Homo sapiens: one gene and its partner. The protein of the gene in region 1 interacts with the protein of each later gene in a biochemical or structural test. Each region holds a gene or a part of one and is shown on either strand. Other genes may lie near its edges.

Region 1 (4,247 bases):
CGGCCCCTCTAGACTCTGGGAAAGGTGGAAAATTGGTTTTCTCCTGGAGCCTCTGGGAGGGCCCAGGCCTGCCCATACCTTGACTTTAGTACTTTTGCTCTCCAGAACTGTAAGAGGATGTGTGTGTTGTTTAAAGCCACTAAGTTTCTGGGCATCTGTTACAGCAACAACAGGAAGCTCATACCAGCACCAAATGGGGCCCGCCCAGAGCCTTTTGTGGACCTCCTCAGATTGAACCACCAACACTGCTAAGCAGTGATATCATGCCTATTTATTTATTTATTGAGACAAGAGTCTCACTCTGTTGCCAGGCTGGAGTGCAGTGGCGTGATCTCGGCTCACTGTAACCTCTGCCTCCCAGGTTCAAGCGATTCTCCTGCCTCAGCCTCCCAAGAAGCTGGGATTATAGGCATGTGCCACCACGCCCAGCTAATTTTTGTATTTTTAGTAGAGACGAGGTTTCACCATGTTGCCCAGGATGGTCTCGATCTCTTGACCTCATGATCTGCCCACTTCAGCCTCCCAAAGTGCCAGGATTACAGGCCTGAGCCACCGCGTCCAGCCCAATCGAGCCCATTTCTAACGGGGAGACTGAGGCTGAAGCAGAAGTGCCCCACTGCAGGAGCACACAGTCCCCACCTGCTCTGGTTGGGAATGATGCCCCGCTCTTGCTCCCGCAGGTCACGACCCATGCGCACCGCCAGCCAGTGGCCTCCTCGTGCGTGGCTCTGCCCGGGGCCGGGGTGCAGCGTGTCCAGCACGTGGAAGACGTCGCCACGGGTGAAGCCCAGGCCAGACGGTGGACTGGGCTCCAGCTCAAAGTGAGTGCGGATGTAGAAGGAGTCACCCACGCGGGACTGCACCATTTTCCAGAAAACTGGGGAGAGCGGGAGGCCACATGAGCTGCCTGGGCTGCTGCCTGATCTGAGCCCTCCCCACCCGAGAGTGGGCCTGGCTGGAGATTTGGGGCACTCTCCCTGTAGGGGCCAGGGAGAGGGATGGAGGGTGCAGAGATGCAGATTCAACCACATCCCTGCACTCACCACCAGGCCACACAGCCAGGTCCTCCCCCCGCAACACACAGGCACACCCATATCCACGCGCACTCACTGTCCTGCTTCCTCTGCGTCACCAGCTCCATCTCCTCGCCTGGTGGCAGCCCCAGCAGGAACTGCACTGCCTCCTCCCGTGTCAGGTTCTGGAATGGCACGTCATTCACCTGCCAGAAAGCAAGTGCAGCTATAGAAAAAGCTCTGGTACCTCTTGGGCGTGCATGAGATCCTGGACCTTCCTCTGGGCAAAACTCAGCCCCAGCTGCTTCCAGAGCTGCTGCCAAGGGACCCGGCAGTTCCCCGAGGGCTTTCCGACTGGGGTATCACCCTATGGCTGTGTGATGTGTGACACAGACAGCTGGTGGCATTGTAAGGATACAAGAGTTTTGACACAGAAACGGGCACAGGCACTGCACTTGTCCTCAGATAACCAAATCATGGTGGGTTGTCAATATCAAAACATGGGAACAGAGGTCATGGCATGGAGCTCGATGGAAACTGTGTGAAATGCTCAAAAGAACTCAGACGTAGTCACAGTAGTCACAGGGTCGTGACAGGGACAACGATATATGGACACACAGTGGGTCACAGATGCCTACCACCAGGGTCATGACAGGGACAACAATATATGGACACAGCCATCTGCTCTCCGGGTCATGACATGGACAGCAATATACAGACACAGCCACCTGCTCTCAGGGTCATGACATGGACAGCAATATACAGCCACCTGCTCTCCGGGTCATGACATGGACAGCAATATACAGCCACCTGCTCTCAGGGTCACGACATGGACAGCAATATACAGACACAGCCACCTGCTCTCAGGGTCATAACAGGGACAGCAATATACTTGCACAGCTTGTGGGCACAGACACCTACTCTCGGGGTCATGACGTGGATGTCAAGGTTAGAATCCCACAAGCAAAATGAGTAGAAATACAGTAAAAAATACCATGACCCTCAGGCAATTTGGCATCAAGTTTTCACCCAGCCAGTGGGCTTATGACATGGAAAGTGGGGAGCTGTGACTCCATCATGAATCACAACTCACACTGCAAGGTCAAGACACAAGCAAGGTCATGAGAGCAAAGTGGGGGTGAGACTTGGTGAGTGAACTCGCGCAAGGGACAGGGGAGACAGCCTGGGGATGAGATGAGGCAAGGACAGAGATGGGGGGATGATGAGGGGCTGTGGATCCTGGAGGTAGTTATGACACTGTCATGAAGGCAGGACACAGGCAAGGTCACAACACAGACACAGGGGATGGTGGCACAGAAAATGACTATAAGTGGACATGGAGATCATGAGAGAATGATCTGTGACCTGACCACACGATTAGGACATACAAGACGGTCATGACACGGTCAACACAGCCAATGTCAGGAACAAGAGGATTGCGACCCAGACAAGGTCATGACATAGGCAATGAGGCTGTGACCCAAAGTCCTGACATTGATAACAAGGAGATTGTGACATTGATAACAAGAATGTCACATGAACAATGTCATATGACATGAACAACAAGATTGTTGTTCCCAATCTTGAGCACAGTGTCTCAAGCTTATAATCTCAGCACTTTGGGAGGCTGAGGCGGGTGCATCACTTGAGGCCAGGAGTTCAAGACCAGCCTGGCCAACATGGTGAAACCCTGTCTCTACTAAAAACACAAAAATTAGCTGGGCATGGTGGCGGCCACCTGTGATCCCAGCTACTTGGGAGGCTGAGTCAGGATGATCCCTTGAACCCGGGAGGCGGAGGTTGCAGTGAGCCAAGATCACACCCCCGCACTCCAGCCTGGGTGACAGAGCAAGACTCTATCTCAAAAAAAAAAAAAAAAAAAGTTAGCCAGGCGCAGTGGCTCATGCCTGTAATCTCAGCTACTTGGGAAGCCGAGGCAGGTGGATCACCTGAGGTCAGGAGTTTGAGACCAGCCTGGCCAACATGGCGAAACCCTCATCTCTACTAAAAATATAAAAATTAGCCGGGCGTGGTGGTGGACAACTGTAATCCCAGCTACTCAGGAGGTGAGGCAGAAGAATTGCTTGAACCTGGGAGGCAGAGGTTGCGGTGAGCCAAGATCACACCATTGCACTCCAGCCTGGGCAACAAGACCAAAACTCCATCTCAAAAACAACAACAACAAAAAATGAACCCAGATAAGGTCAAGGCACAGAAAAGGAGGTTGTAACTGGACGATGAGGTCATGACCTGGAAGATAAGGTCGTGACATCAGCAAAATCATGACACAGCCAAGGAGACACTGAAATGTTCAAATACCCATCTGGGGTCTCGACAGTCCCCAGGTGGACCCAAGGGGAGGACTGGAACAGACAAGGGCAGGACCTAGCACACTGCACGCCCATGATCAGTGGGGCTGGCCAGCCGCCCCCGGAGCACCTGCAGAATCTGATCTCCCTCCTGGATGCCCTGCCCGTCGGCCGGGCTGCCCGCCTGCACCCCGGACACGAAGATGCCCACGTCATTGCCCCCTGCCAGCCGCAGCCCGATGCTCTTGCCCTTGAGGAAGCGGACCACACGCGTGTCGGGGCTGTACCTGCAAGGGGAGGCAGAGATGGGGTCAGAGCAGAGTGGGCGGACAAAGGGAGGGCTCAGCATTGTCCTTGGGAAAGCCCCCACCCCCTCCAGGCCTCAGTTTCCCCAAAACCCCCACTTAATGGTCCCACTCAACACAATGGATACAAGCAGGCAGGATTGCGCTGATGAGGGAGGCAGCCTGGGATGTAGGAGTTTTGAGCGGGTTTGCTTTCTTCTGGGGTACATACCCACGATCCTCCATGCTCTGACTGCTGGGCACTCTGTAGATGTCATAGCTGCTTTCCCTGGGCAACTCTGAAAGGGAAAAGCCAGTCTCTTTCCCAAGCACACTGGCTCAGTCCAGCCTCCAAACCTTTGCTTTATGTCCTCATCCTGGAAGGACTGTCACCCACCTCGAGTCCTTCTCAGGAAACCATGTCTCACCACTTAGGCTCAGGCCAACCTCCCCCAGCTCTGCCTGGCACAGCCTTGCTGTCAGGGATCAGAAATGTCAGGGACAGGGGTGCTCAGAGTCACCACCCACCTGACCGTTGCTCATCTGGTTCCGAGATGGTTCTGGAATCTACTGAACTTTCCCGCCGAAGCCGGGGACTCTCCCTGGTGGGGAACAGATTGGGAGTGAGGCAGGGATGGATT
Region 2 (3,741 bases), about 31 Mb from region 1:
GAGAAGAGCCTATGGGTATAGTGAACATATACTTATCTGATACACTTAGCCTACATTTGAAAGATAGTGATGATAGTTTCTGCATGACTGGGTTGTTTGGGAATGTGATCACATAGCAGGAAACTGCCTAGCACACTGCCTGACCCGGAGTGGCTCAACAGAAGTTACTTGTAAGTAATATTAATGTAGTGTTAGTCATAAGGAATAGTGATAGCTCAGACATTCTTCTGCATTCAGAAGACAGTCCTTTCTTTTCCTGCAGATTACTATTTCAAACTACACTCTGCATCCCACCATTTTTCACCTTCTCCAGCCCGTCATTTATTGATCCATCCATTCATCTTTTCATTTATGTATCAGATACGCAGAAGCACTCCCTAGCCCTGTTGTTTTCTGGCCCTCCTGTCTTCTAAAAACCTCAAGGTGATGATTGCCTTTGTCAGTCCCACATCTGGGCTGCCAGAGGAAGCTGGAGCCATCAAGCAGGTGGATTTGTGACACTGTAGATTCACCATCTCACCCCTCTAGTGTCCTTCTTGCCTGCTCAGTCAGCCTTCACCCCTCTCCCCTATTCCACATCTTCACTTGAATGTCTCAGAGGCACCTCACACTCATCATGCCTAAAAGGACCTCATGATCACCCCCATTTTCAGCTAATGCCTCTTTCAATGAGTGGAGAAGGCTAAAAACAAACGTGGACAACCCCTCAACACCTCCATCTCCCTCATACCCAATATCCAGCCATCCCCGAATCTTGACCATTTCACATCACTCATGTCTCCTGAATCCTCACCTTCACTAGTTTCCATCAGCTCCAGCATTAGTACTCTAGGCCAAGTGATCATCTCTTGCCTGCATAATGCTACCAGATTCCTCGCTGTTTTCCCCCATGTGCTCTGTGCATCTGGTCAGCCCTGTGTGTTATATCTGCATCCACTCACATGTTCCATGTATCACCGCCTCCCTTGCCACTGATGTCAGAGCATCTGACCTACTTTATGAATAAAGCCTACACACTTGATTTTCTTGCTTTTTGACACTTACTGATTCATGTTCATCTGACTTATCCTGCAGCTTCCTTCTCACTTCTGTGGAAGAGTTATCATCCTGGCCATGGCTAATTTCTCCAGCAGAATCTAGATTACACTTTCTGCCTTCTCAGGTGTATTAGCCATCTACTATTAATATGTAACAATATTACCACAAACCCTGCAGCTGAAAACATCACTTATTTATTATCTCCCACCTATGGATTGGGAGTCCAGGCACAGCTTAGCTGGGTCCTCTCAGGCGTGTCATAGGCAGCTCATAGCTCATCATCACCATCAGCTCACTTCTTCAAATCAAGCCACTGTGTGAGACTCCAGCAAGACGGATGTTCCAGTCTTATAAAATTACATATATTTTATCATGTACATTCCATCATCTTTGCCATATTCTATACTTTAGAAGCAAATCGAGGTCCTGCCAACATTTTAACAGGGGAACTACAAAAGGGTGTGAACACTATGACTTGGGGATCATGAGAAGCCATACGTGAATCTCTCAGCTGCATCAGGGAACATGCTTCTTCACTTACTTCCTACCTCTTCTATATTTTCATCCCCTCTCTACTCAACATTAAAAAAAAATGATGATGTTTCTGATACCTGGGGGAGACTTTTTTTTTTTTAGTGCTCTTACGTCTCCAGCAGCATCTACATATTGTTGACTCTATTTCACCTGAACAGCCAAGCTTGTTGGAGAAGTCTTCTCATTCTTTGAAGAGACATCTACACAAGACTTTCCTTTATTTATTTTTTCCCTTATTTTTGTACTGAGGTGCAATTTATACATAATAAGTGTACAAATCATAAAGTTTCATTTCTATAAAGTTTTATATATGTACAAGTCAGAGAAACCATCTCACAGTTCAAGAAATACAGTGTTTTCAGCACTTAACAGGCTCCTTGTGCTCATTCTTTGTCAGTATCCCCTTCTATAAAAGTAGTCAGTGTTTATACTCTATATCACCATACATTAGTTTTGAAGGCATATAAATAGAACCCCCTAGTACATACTCTGTCCTGACTTCTTTTGATAATCTTTATGACTCAGATTCATTCATGTGGTTGCATATAGTTGGAGTTAGTTCATTACCATCATTGAATGAATAGACTACATATACCCATTTTCCTATTGATGGACATTTGACTTGGTCTCCATTTTTGGAATATTATGAAGACTACTCTTATGAATATTCTTGATTGTATTTTTTGTTGGATATAAACCCATATTTCTGTTGGGAATATACATACAAGTGGACTGGCCAGATCAAGTGTGGGCATATGATTAGCTTTAATCGAAACCACCAGTTTCAGAGTAACTACACCATTTCACATTTCCACTAGCCACGTATGAGAGTCTTCATTGTTCCATGTACGCCTGAGCAGTTGGTGTCTTTCCCTTTACTCTTTGATGCCTGGTAGTGGTGTTTCTCAGCACCACAGCACTTAAAGTGTTCTTGCCCAGGTCACTGTTGCCATCCTGATTGCTAAATTCAACTATAATGATAATAGACAGTGGTCTACAGTTTACCAAACATTTATTCTTTGTCACACGAATGAACTTTTGTTTGGTTTTTGGGTTTTTTTTGAGACAGGATCTCACTCTGTCGCCTAGGCTAGTGTGCAGTGGCACAATCTCGGCTCACTGCAGCCTCTGCCTCCTGGGTTCAAGTGATTCTCGTGCCTCAGCCTCCTGAGTAACTGGAATTACAGGCATGCACCACCACACCTGGCTGAATTTTTTGTATTTTTAGTAGAGATAGGGTTTTGCTGTGTTGGCCAGGCTGGTAACTCCTGGCCTCAAGTGATCTTCCTGCCTCAGCCTCCCAAAGTGCTGGGATTACAGGTGTGAGCCCCCACACCCAGCCACAAATCAATATTTTGTATGCTTTTTCTCCTAACAACTTGTAGGCAGGAACTGAGAGTATCCCAGTTTTTCAGATGAGGAAAGTGAATCTTAGAAAAGTGTGTTAGTCTGCTCTGGCTGCTGTAATAAAATACTATAGACTGCGTGGCTTATATAGCAGAAATGTGTTTTCTCTCAGGTCTAGAGGCCGCAAGTCTAAGGTCAGGGTACCAGCATTGTTGGGTTCTGATAAGGGCTGTCTTCTCAGCTTGCAGATGGCCGCCTTCTCACTTTGTGCTCACATGGCCTTCCCTCAGTGCCTTCACTTCTTACAAGAAGTTTACCATGTTGGCCAGGCTGGTCTTGAACTCCCGACCTTCAGTGATCCGCCTGTCTTGGCCTTCCAAAGTGCTGGGATTACAGGCATGAGCCACCATGCCTGGCCCCCCTCTGACTTTCATAATTGTCCCTAGGTGTGCAGAATTAGAAAAATTATAAATAATGATTTATGACACATTGTCATCATTAGTCAATGCGTGTCCTGGTTTTTTGTTTTATTTTCTTTCATTGCATTTTATTAATATATTTATTCATCCTCCTTTAAAAAGATTGTAATGAACACCTACAAACCTTTCGCCAAGTACAAGAACATGACCTGCTTCCTGCATCTGTTGATGTGTTTCTTTCCTTTCCCATTCCTATGCTGCCTCCCTTGCATACATGGCCACTTTAAGATTTGTTATTCCATTGCTTATTCTGTAGGAAGATTCAGGTTTTTTTCATAAATATAGGCTATTCAGATGTTCTGTTTTTGTTTGTCCGTTTTGGTAATTTGAGTAATGTAAAATA

What was found.
Region 2: the proteins of TJP3 (region 1) and ZNF599 interact in a test that uses a peptide from one of them, tested with the Homo sapiens proteins (one large-scale study listed by IntAct).

What each region holds. Positions count from the first base shown.
Region 1 is NC_000019.10:3,735,527-3,739,773, reverse strand, and holds part of TJP3 (tight junction protein ZO-3), read right to left. Parts: intron 4,209-4,247; coding exon 4,135-4,208; intron 3,906-4,134; coding exon 3,839-3,905; intron 3,610-3,838; coding exon 3,453-3,609; intron 1,220-3,452; coding exon 1,111-1,219; intron 878-1,110; coding exon 640-877; intron 1-639. UniProt on the Homo sapiens protein: TJP1, TJP2, and TJP3 are closely related scaffolding proteins that link tight junction (TJ) transmembrane proteins such as claudins, junctional adhesion molecules, and occludin to the actin cytoskeleton.
Region 2 is NC_000019.10:34,762,975-34,766,715, reverse strand, and holds part of ZNF599 (zinc finger protein 599), read left to right. Parts: intron 1-3,741. UniProt on the Homo sapiens protein: May be involved in transcriptional regulation.